Regions from separate parts of the Homo sapiens genome. Here region 2 is linked to region 1. The links come from fine-mapping of genetic effects on gene expression. Tissue or cell type: whole blood. Region 1 holds a variant in brackets; the other region holds the start of a gene. All regions are shown on one strand. Distances are between the middles of the regions.

Region 1 (9,122 bases):
AACTGAAAACAGGTCGGGCATGGTGGCTCACGCCTGTAATCCCAGCACTTTGGGAGGCCAAGGCGAGTGGATCACGAGGTTAGGAGATCGAGACCATCCTGGCTAACACGGTGAAACCCCATCTCTACTAAAAATACAAAAATATTAGCCAGGCATGGTGGCGGACGCCTGTAGTCCCAGCTACTCGGGAGGCTGAGGCAGGAGAATGGCGTGAACTCGGGAGGCGGAGCTTGCAGTGAGCCGAGATCACACCACTGCACTCCAGCCTGGGCAACAGAGCAAGACTCCACCTCAAAAAAAAAAAAAAAAAAAAAAGAATTGAAAACAATTTGCATGTCTGTGAATGTGTGTTTGTGTCTGAGTGTGTGGTGCAATCATTATTAGCAAAGGGGAAGATGGCAGGTGGCACATGTCACAGGCAGAAGAATTTTGCAGGGAAGTACATAGAGAATCCTCAAGGTGGTGACGTGCCTGCCACGTTCCAGGACTGCATGGCTCCCAGCAGCTCATAAGAATCCCACTTTGAGCACTGCAGGGAAAACGGGTCACCTCATCCCTTCCAGCTCAGCTGTGCCCAGGGCCTAGGACTTCCCACTGGGGACTCTGTGGCTGTTTATTTTAGTCCCTGCTCCTGCCAGCTCTGTGCTTGGCGTCCACCTGAGGCAGCTTCCTGGAGAAACGGCTGAGCCACAGGGCATTGTCCCCAGACCGCAGAGCAAATGGTGGAGTGCCATGACGATGACAAACATTTACTGAATGTGTAGACATTCCCACTTAATCCTTGAAAACAGAACACAAAATAGGCTAAGAGCTTACATAATTTGCCTGATGTCACAGTTAATAAGTGGTGGAACTGGCATTCAAACCCAAAACATACGCTTCGAACCACTCTACGGATCACTGGTGACCAGCTCAGGATGCCAGCAAGAGCAGGCCTCCCATGAGAGAGCGTCGTGCAGTTTGCTGGATACGGTGGGAATGACCCATATTTGAGCTCCCAGGGGAGAAGCAAATGGGGGACAGGACTGGACAGCCAAGGTGCAGGGCATCCTCTGGGAAGGCGCGTGGCTCGGAACACAAAGGCTTCCCGGGTGCAGCATGGGAGGGAGCCCGGGCCAGGCTTCTTGGGTCCACGCCTAGCTCTGCCACTCAGACCCACCCCAGGATCTGTGGGCCCAGAGGGGAGGATGGAAGGAGGCCACAGACCACATGTCTAAATATTTAAAATACTTTAAAGCTGTCAGTCAAGCCGACAGACATAAGGAGAATACACTCCACCCTCCTACGTTGACACATAAACTTCTCAATGACCTGGAAGGCCAGGTGTGAATGCAGAACTCTGGGGCTCCACACAGTTCTGTGTCTGGAGGAGGGAGTGTGGGGAGGCCCATGGCTCGCCCTCCTCTTCCCACGCCCTGCTCTGTCACACCTTCAAAGGGGCCACGTGTGGACAGTGAGACTGCTGGTTCAAATTCTGTCCACACTTTTCATAAAGAGCTGCCCTGCGGCCACCATTTGGGCCCACTGAGGTGGCAGCATGCACCCAAAGGAAGACAGGCCTGGGGAGAGGCCCTGGCAGCAGCCTCATGGCTGTGTGGGCTGGAATTCCACAGTGTGTGCTCCCAAGTGTAGTCCACAAGCAGGAAGTGAGCCTTCCCCTTGGCTCCGAGGGCTCCTTGCCTTGTGGGGAGGGCACCGCCAGACAGAGGCCAGAGCAGGCCATCTAAAGCGTGGGGCCCTGGCAGAGGCCCGTCAGGCCTGGCTCTCGGGAGGTTGCTGCCACCATTTCCTTATTGTGGAACTTTGGGCACATTAGTCTCTCTGTGCCTCGCCTTCCTCCTCTGTGAATGGAGATGATTACAGTGAGGAATAACCGAGGAACAGCGTGCCTATTCAGGATGAGTAAGGTGCTTATGGCGGTGCTCGGAAATAGTAAGTGTGATATAAATGCTCACAATTAAGTGTAATTAGTGTAATTATTATTTGGTTTTAGTCAGGGATCTTCAAAGTCGTTAACAGATTGAGTGCTGGAAAAAAAATAAAAAACTCATCCGTTCTCAGGCCAGAGCTTGTAAAGGAAGAGAAAGTGTGGGAAAGCAGGGAGCAGAAGGGAGTGGGATAGAGGGAACGTGGGGCATTCGCTGCGAATCCACCCAAAAAACATGCACTAGGGAGGCATGTTTCTAGGCCCCCGGTAACAGGAGTGAGAAAGACAGACGGCGATTCTTGCCTTCATGCACCTTCTTGGCACAGCAGTCAGGGTGGGAGGTGAGAAGGAAGATATTTAACAAGGAAACAAAGAAATAAGCATTATCATTCCAGATGGAGACAAGGGGAGTGAAGGAAATCAAACAGGGAAAATCAAGAGAGAATGACTCTGCAGGAAGGTGGGGTGCAGGCTGGGCCAGGCAGAAGGGAAGAACTACTCTCAGGAGGACTGCCAAGACCTCTCTCAGGAGACAACTGTAAAACTGAGACCTGAGCGGGGAAAACAAACAACGAATAACAAAAAACCTGAGACCTGAATAATGTGGAGGAATTGACTGTGTAAGAATCAGGGAGAGGGTGTTCAAGAAAACGGCTGATGAGGCCGGGCACGGTGGCTCACGCCTATAAACTCGGCACTTTGGGAGGCCGAGGCGGGCAGATCGCTTGAGGTCAGGAGTTCGAGACCAGTCTGGCCAACAAGGTGAAACCCCATCTCTACTAAAATACAAAAATTAGCCAGGCGTGGTGACACGCACCTGTAGTCCCAGCTATTTGGGAGGCTGAGGCAGGAGAATCGCTTGAGCCTGGGGAAGTGGAGGTTAGAGTGAGCCGAGATCGCACCACTGCACTCCAGCCTGGGCGACAGAGCGAGACTCTGTCTCAAAAAAAAAAGAAAAATAAACAGGGCTCTGGCATGACTCCTAGGTCTGGGGCCTGAGTAGCAAGCTGGTGTGATGTCTTTACTGAATGAGTCCAGACTAGGGGAGAAATAGAGTTTGTAAAGAAAACCCACAGTTTCAGTTAGGACATGTCAACTTCAAGATGGCAGTCATTTATTCCAATGGCAATATTGAGTCAGATACATGAATTTTGAACTCAAGAGTGAATTTAGGGCTAAAAATATAAATTTAGGAGCAGTGGTTCACAGATGTATTTATTTATTTATGTTATTATTATTATTATTTGAGACAAGAGTCTCGCTGTCACCCAGGCTGGAGTGCAGTGGCATCTTCTGGGCTCAAGCCATCCTCCCACCTCAGCCTCCTGAGGAGCTGGGACTACAGGCATGCACCACCACACCTGGCTAATTTTTTATATTTTTAGTGGAGACAGCTTTTTCCATGTTGCCCAGGCTGGTCTCAAACTCCTGAGCTCAAGCAATCCACTCACCTTAGCTTCCAAAGTGCTGGGATTACAGGCATGAGCCACCACGCCAGCCTGCAGATGGTATTTACAAGGGACAAAATCGGATGGGATTGCTTGCAGAGAACATGTAGGAGATAAGAAGGCTGAAGGCTGATGGCTGAGGGCCTCTCACATTCAGAGCTGTGGGATGATTAAGAGCCAGTAAAGGAGACTGAGAAGGAGTTGCTGGGGAAGTAGGAAGAGAACAAGCAGATGACATGGTAGGCTCAACAGTGGGCACCAGAATGTCCATACCCTAATCTGAGGAACATGTGAATATGTTACCTTAGGTGACAAAAGGGACCTTGCAGGTGCAACTGAGGTTAAGGAGTTTGGGATGGAGAAATTATCCTGGATTATCTCAGTGGGCCCAATCTAACCACCCGATTCTTTACAAATACACAAGGCAGCAGTGGGAGTCAGAGAGGTGTGATGATGAAAGGGGCTCAGAAGATGTAAAACACGAGGAAGAATTGACCCACCACTGCCGGCTCTCAAGATGGAGAAGCCAAAAATTCAGGTGACCTCTAGAAACTGGGAACGGCCCTCAGCTGACAGCCAGCCCAGACACAGGACCTCAGTCCTTCAGCCGCAAGGACTGAATTCTTCTAATAAACTGAATGATTAAGGAAATGGATTTGCCCCTAGAACCTCTGGCAAAGAATCTAACTCTGCCAACACTCTGATTTTAGCCCAGTGAGCCCCATGTTGGATTTCTGAACTACAGAACTATAAAATAATAAATTTGCATAGTTGTAAGCCACAAAAT[C/A]TGTGGTAATCTGTTATTGCAGCAAGCCAGTGAATGTATGTGGTTTAAACTAAAAGCTGAAGGAAGAACGTGTTTCAAGAAGGAGGGGGCCATCAGCTGTGTTGCAAGCTGCTGAGAGGTTGAGTCAGAGGAAGACAGACATAACCTTTGAATGGGGCAACGCAGAGACTGCCACTGACCTCGACCAGCAGTTTCAGTGGAATGGTGAGATCAGAACGCAGACGGGAGTGGGGCAGGCCATGAAGGTCAGGGTGATGATGCAGTGAAGACAGACAACTCTTGTCAAGTTTTGAAGAGGGGGGAGGAAATGGGGCAGTATCTGGAGAAGGGTGTATGTTCATACAAGAGTTCCACTTTGTTTTAGTGAGAGACAGAGAGCAGGTTGTTTGCTGAAGGAATTGACCTTGTGGGGGAGAAAAAGTGAGATTTGCGAGTGGGGTTGGGGGACCAGCAGCAAAGTGGGATCCAGAGTGCAAGTGGAGGGGCCGGTGTTGATGGGAGGAAGGGGCAGGAGGGAAGACAGAAGATGAGTCTGGGCGCGAGGTGGCTTCTAGCTTGATGGTGGGAGGAAAAGGAGTTCCAGTCTGATGGCTTCTATTTTGTCATCAAAGTGACCGAAGTGAGGTCTTGTGTGAATGTACAAGGGGGAAGAAAGCATGCTGGAGGCTTGAGGAGCGAGAAAAGGGTATAGAATGGCTCACCCTGGAGCCTGGGAAGCAACCTGATGATAGAAGCGGAGCCCGCTGCCCCAGGAAGGAACTGGCCTCTGCTGCCTCTTTCACCTTCCTGGCGCGGTCCTGGGGGTGGTCTGCTGGGTTCAGGTTGGGCTGTGGAGTATGTTCTTACTCACTAGGCAGGTAACCCAAGCAGCTTTTATAGCCTTGGTCTCTTCACCACCATCATCTTAGTCATGCTTGCCCTGCCTACTTCCATCAAAGGAGGCAGCAAGTGCTGCATGGACAGTCAGGCGCTGTCTGAGTGGGAGTCATGGTTTTTTCCTTATGGATGGAGTCCATCCTGTAATACCTGGCCAGTGAGGAGATCCCCAGCAAGCTAGAGATGAGCACAGAGGGAGAGCGTCTGTCTAGCTCGCAGCAATGGCCTCTGCCTTCTGAGATCGCTTCCTTCGTAAGCGTAAGCAGTAACTTCCACCTCCACCCGGTCCCCAAGAGGCCTGACAGACTCCCAGCCTGGGTTTACTTTCCTGGGGCAATAGTAATATGAATCCACATAGAGGCTTGGTCCCCATGGGGTGCTCCTCCAGCCATAGTGTCTGCAGCTGTCATCTGGCTAGATGAAGGAAGGGAAACCAGGGCCTGATGCTGTCCTGCCATTTGCTGAATGTCACCCTCCAGGGTAGCCCAAGAAGAAGCAGTAAGTCTTCCAATGTGAGTTTCCTGTAAAAGTTCTTTGGTGACGTAGGGCTTTTTGTGTAGGTGATTTGGGAAGGGGCAACTTTACAAAAATCAGATAAGCTGGGTGGGTGGCTCATGCCTCTAATCCCAGTACTTTGGACAGCCAAGGTGGGAGGATTACTTGAGCCCAGGAGTTCAAGACCAGCCTGGGCAACATAACAAGACCCCATCTCTACAAAAAAAAATTTTAAATTAGCCAGGGCTGGTAGCCTGTGGCTGTTGTCCCAGCTACTCAAGAGGCTGAGGTAGAAGGATCACTTGAGTCTAGGAGGTCAAGGCTGTAGTGAGCTGTAATTGTGCCACTATACTCCAGCCTGGGCAACAGAGCAAAACTCCATCTAGAAACAAAACAAAACAAAACAAAAATAGATCAATAAGCCTCATTGTGACCAAAGAGAGGTAGTGTTCTCCCAGTGAAAAGCAGGAGTCAGGGAGCTCAAGGACTTTGTCCAGGATCAAACACAGGTCAGCTGAGGACCTAGGAATCCAATTAGTTTGACTTGACTCCAAGCTCATGTTTTATTCTACCATACGAAACTGCTTCCCTGGATCCAACCAGCCTGCCTGCTTCCCAGCAAAGGGAAGAGGAGGGAAGGAGCCAGCATTTACCAAGCACTTGTTTACCAGGGGTCCTGCTCTTTGCAGTTCACAGTCGGGGGAAGGAGCACCCCTAGATGGCCAAGAGGCTGTTTCATGATTAACCCCTGCCAATCGGAGGTCTATGGGAAACAGGTATGCTCTGGCTGAAAGCCATGCTGAGTTCAACATGTCATCCTGGTCACCAAAGATAAAAGGATCAGGAAAATAACAGCACAAGTAGATACTACATTCTCCTCTCCAAATACCTTCTCTCCTCCTCCTCTCAGTCCCCAAATGCCATTTTTCCCCGAAATGGAAAGTAGGAGATAAAACTATCAGGGAGATGAGGTCGGCGCGGTGACTTACGCCTGTAATCCCAGCACTTTGGGAGCCCAAGGTGGGCGGATCACGAGGTCAGGAGTTTGAGACCAGCCTGGCCAACATGGTGAAAATCTGTCTCTACTAAAAATACAAAAAATAGCTGGGCGTGGTGGTGCACGCCTGTAATCCCAGCTACTCAAGAGGCTGAGGCAGAGAATTGCTTGAATCCAGGAGGCAGAGGTTGCAGTGAGCTGAGATTGTGCCACTGCACTCCAGCCTGGGCGACAGAGCAAGACTCTGTCTCAAAAAAAAAAAAAACTATTAGGGAGATGAAAGTGAAATGGAACTCCTTCTGATCTCACAGAAACATTCAAACAGTGGAGGAGAAAGGCATAGGAAAGAAACTGGATAAGGTATATAAAGAGAAACAAGCACATAGCCCCTCCAAGGGATTTTGCCAAACGCTTCACTTCTGCTCTTTATCCACTTGTGATATTTGTAGATGACATAAGCTGGTTATGTGGCAGCTCTATGGACTTACTGTTGCATTGTTCAAGGCCAAGTTTCCCAAAAGGAGCTGGGGAATAACATAATGTTGAGTCCAGAACGTTCCTTTGGCAGAGTTTTATGTTAGAATCTTAATACAGAAATGAGAAGAGAAGGAATACACTGATAATATTTATTTTATATTTACAGTGGGATCCTGGTAAAAGGTGTTGGCACCCTTTCAAAAAATTGTTGGTACCTTTGTACAGAGCTGTGGTCATATCAATTGGCACAATACTTTTGGAAATTACAATTGTTCCGTGAAAGGGCCATTTACGCAGAGTGATGCCCAAGTGTCAAAGAAGTCCAGAAACCAAAGCAGGAGGCTGTCAAATCCAGTTTGTTGATTTTAGGTCACTTACTAGGGCAACTTAAAGACAGAAGCATGCTCTTGGGCAGCCACGAGATACGTAGGTCTCTGTACTGCAACCCCCGAAACCCAGGGCCTCTATCTCGGGGAAAAAGTGTATGTGCTCTGAAAGTGTATGTGGAATATAATGTATCTGGAAGTATACGTGCTCTGGGAAGTGTAGGTGGCTACCAGCATCACAGCCTATTTCTGCAACAGCATCAAGGGTTGCTTTGGAGGAAAAGCAAAACTTGAAATGAAGAGGTATTCCCACAGAAAGAGTAATACATCAACTAGACATTTTGTTCCTGGACTTGAAGTTAGTCAGGTAGATTAGCATTTAAAATAAAGTCACTCTTGGCTGGGCACAGTGACTAATGCCTGTAAATCTCAGCACTTTGGGAGGCCGAGGTGGAAGGATCACTTGAGCCAAGGAGTTTGAGACCACCCTGGACAACATAGCAAGACTTCATCTCTATTAAAAAAAAAAAGTAGCTGGGTATGGTGGCACACATCTTCAGTCCCAGGTATTCAGGAGGCTGAGGCAGGAGGATCGTTTGAGCCAGGAGGTCGAGGTTGCAGTGAACTAAGATCATGCCACTGCACTCCAGCATGGTGGACAGAACAAAACCCTGTCTCAAAAGAAAAAAAGCCACTCTTGTCCACAACAATTTGTACCATGAACCACAAAATTTTTCATATATATTTTGACCTAATGAACTTTTTGAGGAAAAAGAGATAAACACCAAAGATATGCATAAACGTTTATGACTATAAAACATTAAAAATAACCATAATATTCAATGTTGTAGAAATAATGGAGTAAACTGTTACCCACTCATTTGGCAGAATATTTTACAACCACTGTAATTAGTGGTGTGCTGGACTCAGCCCATACTGGCTTGAGAGAGCCAATTGTGTGCATTCTTCCCAACTCTGCATTCCATGATGTCATGTCAGTAGCATGAAATCAGCCATGGTGGGAGTATTTACACGAGAGAAATTGGCAAACACTACCAATTAGGGCTTACCCCATCCCCAGAGAGCAAGTTGTTAAAACATTTTCCAGCACACCATTGGTAAGTGGTATATATAAAAAAGATACAAAATTATAAGTGTACCATTGTCATAACAATGTTAAAAATGAATATAAAGATAAGACATGGAAGGGACTATAGATGAGCTGAAAAAAGATTGTGGATAACTTATTTTTTTATTTCAAGCTCTGTTTATTGCTATAGTCTTATTTATATAAAAACACATTTTTTAAATGTTTAAATCTGGTCTTCTGTTTTCACTATGACCAAATAATTTCCTATGAATTCATCCTCTCACATATACAAAATATAATCTCTGGAAAACACACACACACACACACACACACACACACACACACACACACAAACTGCATACAGACACTGGAGAGTGAAAAAGGCAGGCAGATTCTGAAGCAGAGTCAACATTTGGAAGAGGGAAACAATATAAAATAAAGTGTCCCATTTTTATGACAGTTAATTTGAAGGCAGGCTGCAGTTGGTACTGTGTGTAGAGCAGCTAAAACTTTGGTGGGAAATTAGCAATATTTTCTGGCCTGAAGACCAGGAGACACAGTTTAGGGCACCTAAAGCCATTTAGAAAATGAGGAGGGAATCCCAGAAGTGAGAGTCAGAGAAGGGAATTCTCAAGTTCTGTGCATAAACTGCCCACATTGCTGGCTGCCCTGGATCACACATATGTGGTACACATTCAA
Region 2 (9,122 bases), 24 kb after region 1:
TAAGGCCTTGAAGGGCCCAAATTTGGGGACCCTGTACTAGGTACATTATTCTCCATTCTCCACCCTCCACTGTCCTGCCTTTTGTCTTGGAAGCCAACTTCTACAGACTATATAATCAGGGCATGTTCACCCTCTGGCTTTGACTGGGTTTGGCCAGTGGGAGACAATGGCAAGAAGGATTGGAGGATTGGAGGAGAAAAAAGTGGAAGTCATACTCTCCCAGTGCCTCCCTGTGTTTCTGGCAGTGGTGGCATCATGTGATTGCAACACCAGTTGGGCAGCCCCTCTCCCTCACTTCCTGCTGTCACTGGTTTTCATCACAAAATTCCCTCCCTTTCTCTGCTCTGGTCCAGGAGTGCTAGAAAGGCTTTTTGCTTTTGCCAGTCCCTAATTAGTTCCCTCTGCCCTGCACACAACCTTGTGAATAGTTCTTCCAGTAAACCATTTTCAGTAGACCCTTGGAACGTGCTTTCTCTTTCCTTTCATATCTAACTGATACACACTCTTGCTATTTTTCTTCCAACTTTCAGAATTAGGGTTCTAACTGTCCCAGCTGTGGAAAGGTTCATCTGGAAGACCTAGAGTTTTGAGGGACAAAGCAAGGGTCTCTTTTCTGTTGCTGGGCACCTGCCTCCAGTTGCATACACCTTCTCTGATCCTTGGTGCGAATGAGTAAGGGGAAAGTCATCTAATGCTACTGGGTGACATATTTTACCAAACACTCTTCTATTGCTCACTATAATTATGTGAATTGTGTATAAGCTGCGTTCCTCTCATAATTTATTTCATTTTTGGGTGGCAGACTTCCAAATTCCCTCTCTTTTATTCATGCATAACACATGAATGATTCACAAGTGGTAAAGTCAACAGGGCCCCTTCCGCTTCAGTCCCCATCTGTAAAAATGGTTTATCAACCTCATGTTGAGGTTCAGAGTTGGTATAATATCAACCCTCATATTAAGGGTTGGTGTGAGGACTAAATGAGTACCATCTGTAAATCCTTAGAGCAGCAGGTGCAAAGTGCTAGCCCACACCATGAGTATTTGCTCATCTGATTCATCTCGGCCCCCTTTCCTACAATTTATATGTAGGAAGGGGGAAAAGGGGACTTCGGTAGGAATTTCTAAGTGCTCCCTCCAGCTTCCGGGGTTTTCCGCAGCACCCCTTCCTCTCTCAACACCCATTTCTGAGTAGATTTCCTTTTCCGCAACCTTTTCATCCCAGGAAGTTCCAGGAAGGGCAAGAAGGGCAATTGCGATTCTCACGTTTTCTGCTCTTAATTCTAAACCAGTGATTGTCAAATAGAGGCCTAGGGAGCCCCACTGACCACAGAAAGTGGGTTTTGCTCTAGGTTATATCTTTGTTATTGCTCTTATCTGTTTAAGTTTCAAGATTCTGTTTGAACAATGGTTTCCAAGTCTTTAAAAAGTCGAAAATCCCCCTTCTGATGAGATACAGAAACCCCAGACTTTAAAACTCTCAGTCTTAAACCTCTTTGGCACCATTGCCAAGAAACTTTTCTCTATTCCATTCAAATAGTTTGTATTCTTTGCCATTTCTGATGCTCTGAAACAGATATTCAAACAAGCAAGTCTTTATGTATTTATCTGGAGTGTCTTTCTCAAGCACTCAGCATGTTCAGTAGACATTTGTCTCCTTAATTTCTAGGCCCATGGGAAAGATAACTACAACACTGTTTAACAACAGAGACATTTGAAGGTACAAAACTTTACTGGAACCTGATCCAGCCGCTGCAGTACTTCCAACCCATAGAATCCAGCGTTACTAGAGGACCGTCCATTCTGGTTCCAGAGGCTGCTAGGAGCGAGAAAAGTTGGAGAGCAGAAGCTGTACAGGGACTGAGTCCCGGGGAGGAGTACCCAGCAACTGGAATTGGCTGCGTCATGGGGAGGAGAGTTAGCAAGGTACTAACACTCCAATTGGCTAACACATAATTTCTCTATGCAGCTTAAGACTTCAGGCAGACAGATATGAACACATGAAGGGAGTAAAAACTCCAACCTCTGGACCACTTCCTGGAGTGCTCCTAACCCAGACTCCCACAGGGCTTCCTCCCATACTTCATTTAGGTCTTTGGCTCAAATGTTACCTCTTTAGAACTGCCTCAAGACTGGGGCAAGAGGAGCCCCAGTCTAGGGCTCTGAGCACCTGATTCTCTTCCGTCCATGTTCCTTTCCATAGGGCAAGAAATCCCACGGGCCAACGGGATGTACTCACTCAGAGCTCTTGCCCCTCTCCTTTTTAGAGCATACTGTGAGTTCCTGGGACCCTAGAAAATAGTGCCGCAATAGCAACAGGTCACCAGCTACAGGCTGCCTCAGCCTTTTCCCAAGGTCTATCCTCCTGAGGAGCAAGGGGTGGTCAAGGGGAGGCTATTTGCAGGTGTGGACAAAACTCTGATGTGCAGATGTCGTTGTTATAGGTGTGGGCAAAAGGCCATTTGAAGTATGGGACAGAGCTGGGGTGCCAAGAGAAGAAGGAAGGCTGAGGGCCAAGGACATGTTCCCCCTCCAAAGCACTACATTCGAGGGCGTATCTCAGAAGGGTCCAAGAATCCTAAACTTAAATGTGGCCTTCCAGATTATGATGAAGGTATACATGTCAAGATAAAAGGATAGGAATTTTACATCACCGTTTAATTTGTAGTTTTAAAATATGTAGACATGATATGTGGGCCTCCATTTGTACTACTGACTCAGTTCTTGCAAATATTAAGGGTAGACCTGTCCCTGATCTTCGTGTGTAAAATAGCACCTCCTCTGCCACTCTATTCTTACCCCAGTCTACATTTCTTCATAACATCGGTCACCATCTGATCTACATTTACTTATGTATCATCTCTTTACCCCCACTGGAATGTAAGTTCCACGTCCCTAGAGTCTATATTTTGTTTACTGCCTTATCCTTATACCTAAACAAGTGCCTGGCATGACACCACTCAGTAAAACTTGAATAAATGAATAACAAATCTAGGCTCAAAGCTCTTACAGGTGAAAGGGGCTAACCTGGCAGTCACAAAGGAAAAATATCACTGTGACAACCGTCTGAGGAGCACCTTCTCCCCTTAAAATAACTCACTCAAAACAGTGGAGCTGCAAAGGTGACCAGAGAAAATCCATTAACACCTTAGTGCCCATGACACCAGGTGAGTTGATCGGGCTACTTGCGAGAGGGACATGTGAGTGAGCGTGGAGAGCTCTGAGTAGGCTGAAGAGCTGGATGTGGGGGATCTGGGCTGCTGGGAACCCCGAATGTTGGAATCGCCCTGACAACCTTATGAGGGTGGTCAGATATGGGTCCTGAGGAAACTGATTCCACGGCAACTGCCCGCCAACCCAGCACACCCCACAGTGAAGAGGGGCTTCTGATCCATGAGTAGGGCCCCTCAAATGATGTTCCCCTTTAGATGGTCATGGTCATCAGCAGGGGTGGGTGCATCGATCCTGTGGGGTCTTGGTGGTCGCAGACCAAGCGTCCCTCTTCTCACATCTAATTCACAACGTCTCATCGCTCCGCGGGAGCCCAGGAACTGCCCTACAACAGCCGAAATCCGGGTCGTCTATTCCAACGGACTCCTCTTCCGTTGGATACGGGGGCCGTGAGAGGCCAAACAACCTCCGCGAGGCTACCCCCGCAGCGACCGCTCGGCGGGCGCTCCATTCCTTTACCGGACTGTACACCTCGCCTCCTGGGGCCTGAGGCGGGAACCCGGGTCGCGCTGCTCCGAGGCCTCGGCGGACCGCGAAAGGATGGCTCACCACCCGGCCAGGGCCAGCCCCTGCAACAAGCTCAGCCCCGCCCGCTCCCGCGCCCAGGAGCGGCCGGCGGGGCGGGGTGGCTGGGCCGGCCTCGGGGGCGGGGGCTCGGGGGCGGGGGCTCAGGGGCGGGGCCACGTGGCTCCTCCTTGCGGGCGGAGGCAGGCGGTGCCGCGGCGCCGGGACCCGACTCATCCGGTGCTTGCGTGTGGTGGTGAGCGCAGCGCCGAGGATGAGGAGGTGCAACAGCGGCTCCGGGCCGCCGCCGTCGCTGCTGCTGCTGCTGCTGTGGCTGCTCGCGGTTCCCGGCGCTAACGCGGCCCCGCGGTCGGCGCTCTATTCGCCTTCCGACCCGCTGACGCTGCTGCAGGCGGACACGGTGCGCGGCGCGGTGCTGGGCTCCCGCAGCGCCTGGGCCGTGGAGTTCTTCGCCTCCTGGTGCGGCCACTGCATCGCCTTCGCCCCGACGTGGAAGGCGCTGGCCGAAGACGTCAAAGGTGAGAAGCGGGGGCGGCCCGCTCCCCCGTGCCCCGCCGCCCGGACCCCTCCACCTGCCCGGTGGGCAGCCTCCTACTCCGGGAGCGCGTCCCTCTTCCAGTCACCTCCGCCCACCTCTTCCTCTCCGCGCATCCCACGCCCACCACCTTCATGTTTCTCAGCTCCATTTTTGCCTCCCGCTCCCTTGCCTTTTCCTCTTGGCCCTCATCCCGAGCTTCTTTCCCTCTCCGCGGCCTGGGCCCCCAGACCTGCCCTGCTCGCCCGGTTCGTCCCCCGCCAGGTTACTGCCTCCTTCCCTGCGAGAGGTCTCCTTTGTTCCTTCCTCCGCATGGTCCGCTGACACCTTACCGTTTCCTGGGCCAGCCTTGTGGCAGTCCTCTTCCTCTCGTCCAGGGACCCATGTCATCTTCCTGCCAGGTTCCCTAGCTGCTGTGGGTCAGTGCTGGGGAGAAAAGGGAACGGACATCCATTTTGCCTCCCTGCCACCTTTCTCCACTCCCTCGACTGGTTGACCAGGTGGTACATAGACTTCCTTTCTCATTTTTGTCTTTGATGTGGGTATGTCCACCTGGCAGTTTTCCTATCTCTGTTCCGGGCCTCTCCTGACCTGCCGCCTCCAGCTCCTTAGCTTCTGGGCCACATCCTTCTCTCTCTTCCCCCGCTCAGACCCTTATATTTTAAACCCATGCACCCAGAGGCCTTTGGTGCGTGTTTGGCTCTTGCTCCATGTTCCCAATCCCTGGTTGGGGCACCAAAACTATATTTCCTGAATTCCAAGACACCATCAACTGTGAGACACACTGTTCATTTTATGACAGCCCAAGGGGTAGAAGGATAGGAAAAAACCACTACATGTATAAAGATTTGAAGGTGAACTCTATTACAGAAATGCTAAAATTTTGAAACACTTAAGACTTAGAGTCGAGGAAATATGGTAATAATAGTAATTAATATTTACGGAGCACCTATCATTTCAGGCACCTTACTAAGTACTCGGCATACATTGTCTCATAGTTTCCTTTCCACAATTTAAAGATTCCTGTGGTGTCACACATCCACCTAATCCAGGTAGTGGGTATTTGGCGGGCAGGAGTGGTATAGTGATAGTGATTTGTTCCTGACTTGCTGCCTCTGAATGGAGTTACTTCCTGACTCTGGTGCTAGGTCGCTAGCACGGCCTCCTACCCTGAAATGGTCATTGAATGAGAACTGTGGGCATCTTTGGAAATAGGCCTTTTTCTAGAGAAAGGGGAACTGGAACCATTGTTCCACTGTTGGTATTTCTTGATAAATTCAACTCTTTGTGGTAGAACAGTGCCTTTGTAGATGTTAGTTTTCAGACTCACCCTCCTCTTTTCCTGAGCAGCTTGCAGATTGGTTTCTGAAGAGGCGAGATGGAACCATGTGTACATCTTTTAGCCATATGGTCCTGGAAAATTATTTTTAAATGAAACTTATAAGCTGTTTTGACCTCCAGTTTACACTTGCCTACATGCCTCACTGGTCCCATTAGCTGAACGTGCCTTTCTGAGCAGTGCTTCACACCATTTCAACACATTTGGTCAGGGGAGGAGTGATGTCAACACATCTGGTCAGGGGAGGAGGGAGGAAGAACATGGATCATGGAACTGGAACACCTAAGATAAGGTAATCTCAGGGGACATTGTGGGCATGAACATCATAAAAATTCCCAGATCGCTTTCCACTTTGAGGTTATAAGAGGTGTTCAGTGGCTGCAGATGGACTTATTCTAGAATTTCTTCCTTCTTGAGAGTGCTGGGGGGAAAGATTAGCTTCCAGCTGACTCACATGTTTGGCCTCTTGCAATGCAGAGTTTTTAGTTTTCCTATGAGTTGCATGTCTAGATACTGACCCATTCTGCTCCTGGATGAGGGTTACCACTTCCAAACAGGATTCCCCAGTGCATGGAGCCTTTCTCTAAAATAAGAAAGCGAAATCAGAATTTAACCTCTGAAAAGGAAATGGAAGGATCAAAGTCTGTGGGGGTGAGCCAGGGTAAATGGGAGGTGGGAGATTTCAGTGGAAACTGGAGGTCTCCTGTGAGCCATTGGTGTGAGTCAGTCCTTGAGCCAGATCGTGTTGGGAGGGCACTGGCAGAATCTGCTGTCAGCCTGCAATGAAGAATGTCCTCCACTCTAACCCAAAGGGGTGTTCCCTGGTGAGGCCCTGCTGAGAAGCTAGGGTTGGTCTCGCTTCATCTCTGTGTCCTGAGGTTTCTTGAGAAAGGTTGGTTGTGGGCCCGCAGAGGGCTGTGCTCATCCCACCCTGGGCTGTGTGAGTACTGCCCATGCTCTCTGCTGAGGACACCTGTATCTTGAGGCAGGAACAGAGACAGAGTGAAGGTCACAGGGAGAGAGAAGAATTTTGCAGCCATATTTGGCTGGCTTCAGGCATTTAATCTGACTGAATAGGGTTCATTTCTTCAGTGACTAGGGCAGTAGATTCTCTAGGCACCTGCTGCCCCGGGGCAGAGCATGTGTTTCTGAGAACCTGGTTTATCCCCTTTCTATTCCAGAGCAGCTCCGGTTGTCTCACTGTATGTTTTGGAAACTGGTTGTATCCAATTTAGACCTTCATTGCTATTCACTGGCTAATCAATCAGCAAATATTTGTTGAGTGATAAGCATTGTTTGCATTGCAGTTGGGGAAATGAGCTACTCATAGAAGGAAAATTGGCAACTGTTACAAAGCTGTGTTTGAAAAAGGCCAAAGGAGTGGTTCAGCCATTTCTTATGGGAACCCAGGGGAGGGGAAAGTCACAGAGGGCTAATCTGATCACCAGAGGCCTTCATGCCAGTAGTTATTTATTACACGCTTGCCTTATGCCAGCACTTTGCTAAGGGCCTTCACAGGCCATTATTATGACAATCCTTACCCGGGAAAATATCTGTACTATGGATATTGTCTTCCTCTTTTTTTAAAACAGGTAAGTAACTTTCCAGGTTTACACAGATGCTGGAGAAGGTCATTGACTCCAGCTCTTTTTGGCTTTCTGGAGCCTGGGCAGGTAGAGAGGTGGGTGGAGGAGGAAGGATACTCCAGGTGGAAAAACAGCATGTGCCGAGCTATGGAGGTGAGGTTCGTAAGGCGTGTGTTTGAGTGACAGTGAGCAGTGTTGGTTTTGCCCCCCTTCTCTTCCACGGCACAGGCCACATCTGCTATGTGTACCTGTGATTCCCAGCACAGAGCCTGGTGCAGAGTAGGAGCCCACTGCACGTTCATGGTGGCCAGTGGCCTGAGCCTCACAGGATTCCAAATGACAGCGTGAGTGTAGAACCTTCTGCTGGTGCCGTGGATCCTCTTGACTCAGACCGGGGGTGTCAGCCAGGTGTGAGGGGTAGAGAAGGCATTTTGTCCATCCAGTGACGTCACTGCCCAGAAACTGTCAGCAAGGAGGAAGGAAGGCATGAGTTGGTGACCGCATAGTGCTGACTAGCTGGACAGGGCATAAACTAACTCTCTGTGTCAGGAGAGCTCCTGAATTCTTCGGTGTAGAGTCCAGAGCTGAGGGTCAGTAGATTCTAGTCACTAGACCACCAGGTCTGACTGGCTCTTGGTGGTTTGGGTAAATCTGTGCCTCTGTCTTCATGGAAGTCCAGACCCACTTAACACTCGGAGGCTGCATGTTTCTTGTTAAGAGTTGTTTGCCATCCAGCACCTCAACGGTTGTCAGAGCTAGAAGGGGCATTAGAGATCATTCATCCTGGCCCTCGCTGATCCAGGAGGAAGCAGAGGTCCAGAGAGACATGTGGAGCTCACGGTGCTGCAGCCAGTTAAACTCCAAGCAAGGCTTCCTGCTCCACCCAGTGCCCTCCCTGCACTTGTGAGTGGGGCAGGGGACGCTGCCCTTGACTCCAGACCAAGCCCCCAGTGGGGGCTCAGCAGAATCCCCACAACACCCCCTACCAGAGGGCATCCCCTCACCCATCAATCCAAGATTTACAGCTGTCCAACTTCTCTTGCCTCGCCACCCTTCCCCTCTCCATTAGTCCATTTATTCTGTGGTTGGTAGAAAAATTACGCTGTTCAGAGCAATAATTGCACCAGGAAAGGGTTTTCTCCCCAGTAGTAGAGCTAGACTGATACTACTGATCATTTTGGTGTTAGGCATTTAAGACACCTGACACTTCAAAAAGCCTCTGTCACCCAGCTCTGCATTGCGTTGACAGTAAAGCTTAAATGCAGCTTTGCTTTAACAATGGAGCACTCACATAAGGACCTTCTCTATTCCATCTCCTGTTACTTGTCAAAAGACAAAATTACACCACATTCAAAAATCTTAACTGGCTTCTATTTGTGATTCTGGAATCGGACAACACCACATTCTGTCTTACAGAATGAGTATTCTGATGAGCTGAGCAGAGGAGTTTGGCTTTATAGACAGAAAAAGGCTGAAGAAAGTAGAAACAGATCAAAAATCTGATTGGTTATTTCGGTCCCTTTTAAAGGTTAAAGCAGAGGAGACTTCTGTATGTTGGCTGAAACTGGCTTGTTTGAAGATTTGACTGTTAACTCACTCTCTCCTGATCTTGGAAGGTCAGATCGACAGCTTAGTTTTGGCTTGGTGGCGTGGAACTTCAGCTTGAGGGACTCCATCTTGGTTTGGTCTCTTGGGCCTTGTGCAGGAGCTCAGTCCCAACCAATGGCCTCCTAGAAATATTATTTAACAGTTCTCCCCTTTTGGTCAGGTTCTCACCTAGGTGAGAGTTACTAAAACAGGGCATCAGCACTACTCTCAGTAATCATCGTTTTGGGTTTTCGGTCTTAACACATCATTTATAGGTTAAGGTGTCCTCATTATCATGCGTTTCTTGGAGTTTTATCATT

What was found.
Region 2: it holds the start of QSOX1, and the variant in region 1 is fine-mapped to the expression of QSOX1 in whole blood (TOPMed, PIP above 0.99).

The regions. Positions count from the first base shown.
Region 1 is chr1:180,127,393-180,136,514 of GRCh38, forward strand. No RefSeq gene overlaps it. Among named protein-coding and RNA genes, the nearest start is that of QSOX1, 23 kb to the right of the region's middle. The variant C/A (reference allele first, on the strand shown) is at 4,163.
Region 2 is chr1:180,150,900-180,160,021 of GRCh38, forward strand. It overlaps QSOX1 (quiescin sulfhydryl oxidase 1), which reads left to right and starts at 3,970. Exons shown (of 12, transcript NM_002826.5): 1 at 3,970-4,273. The coding sequence starts at 4,009. LOC105371636 (a long non-coding RNA gene) reads right to left here and starts at 3,939. Exons shown (of 2, transcript XR_001738314.3): 1 at 3,100-3,939; 2 at 1,709-2,290. RefSeq lists a silencer at 3,645-3,964 and an enhancer at 4,145-4,244.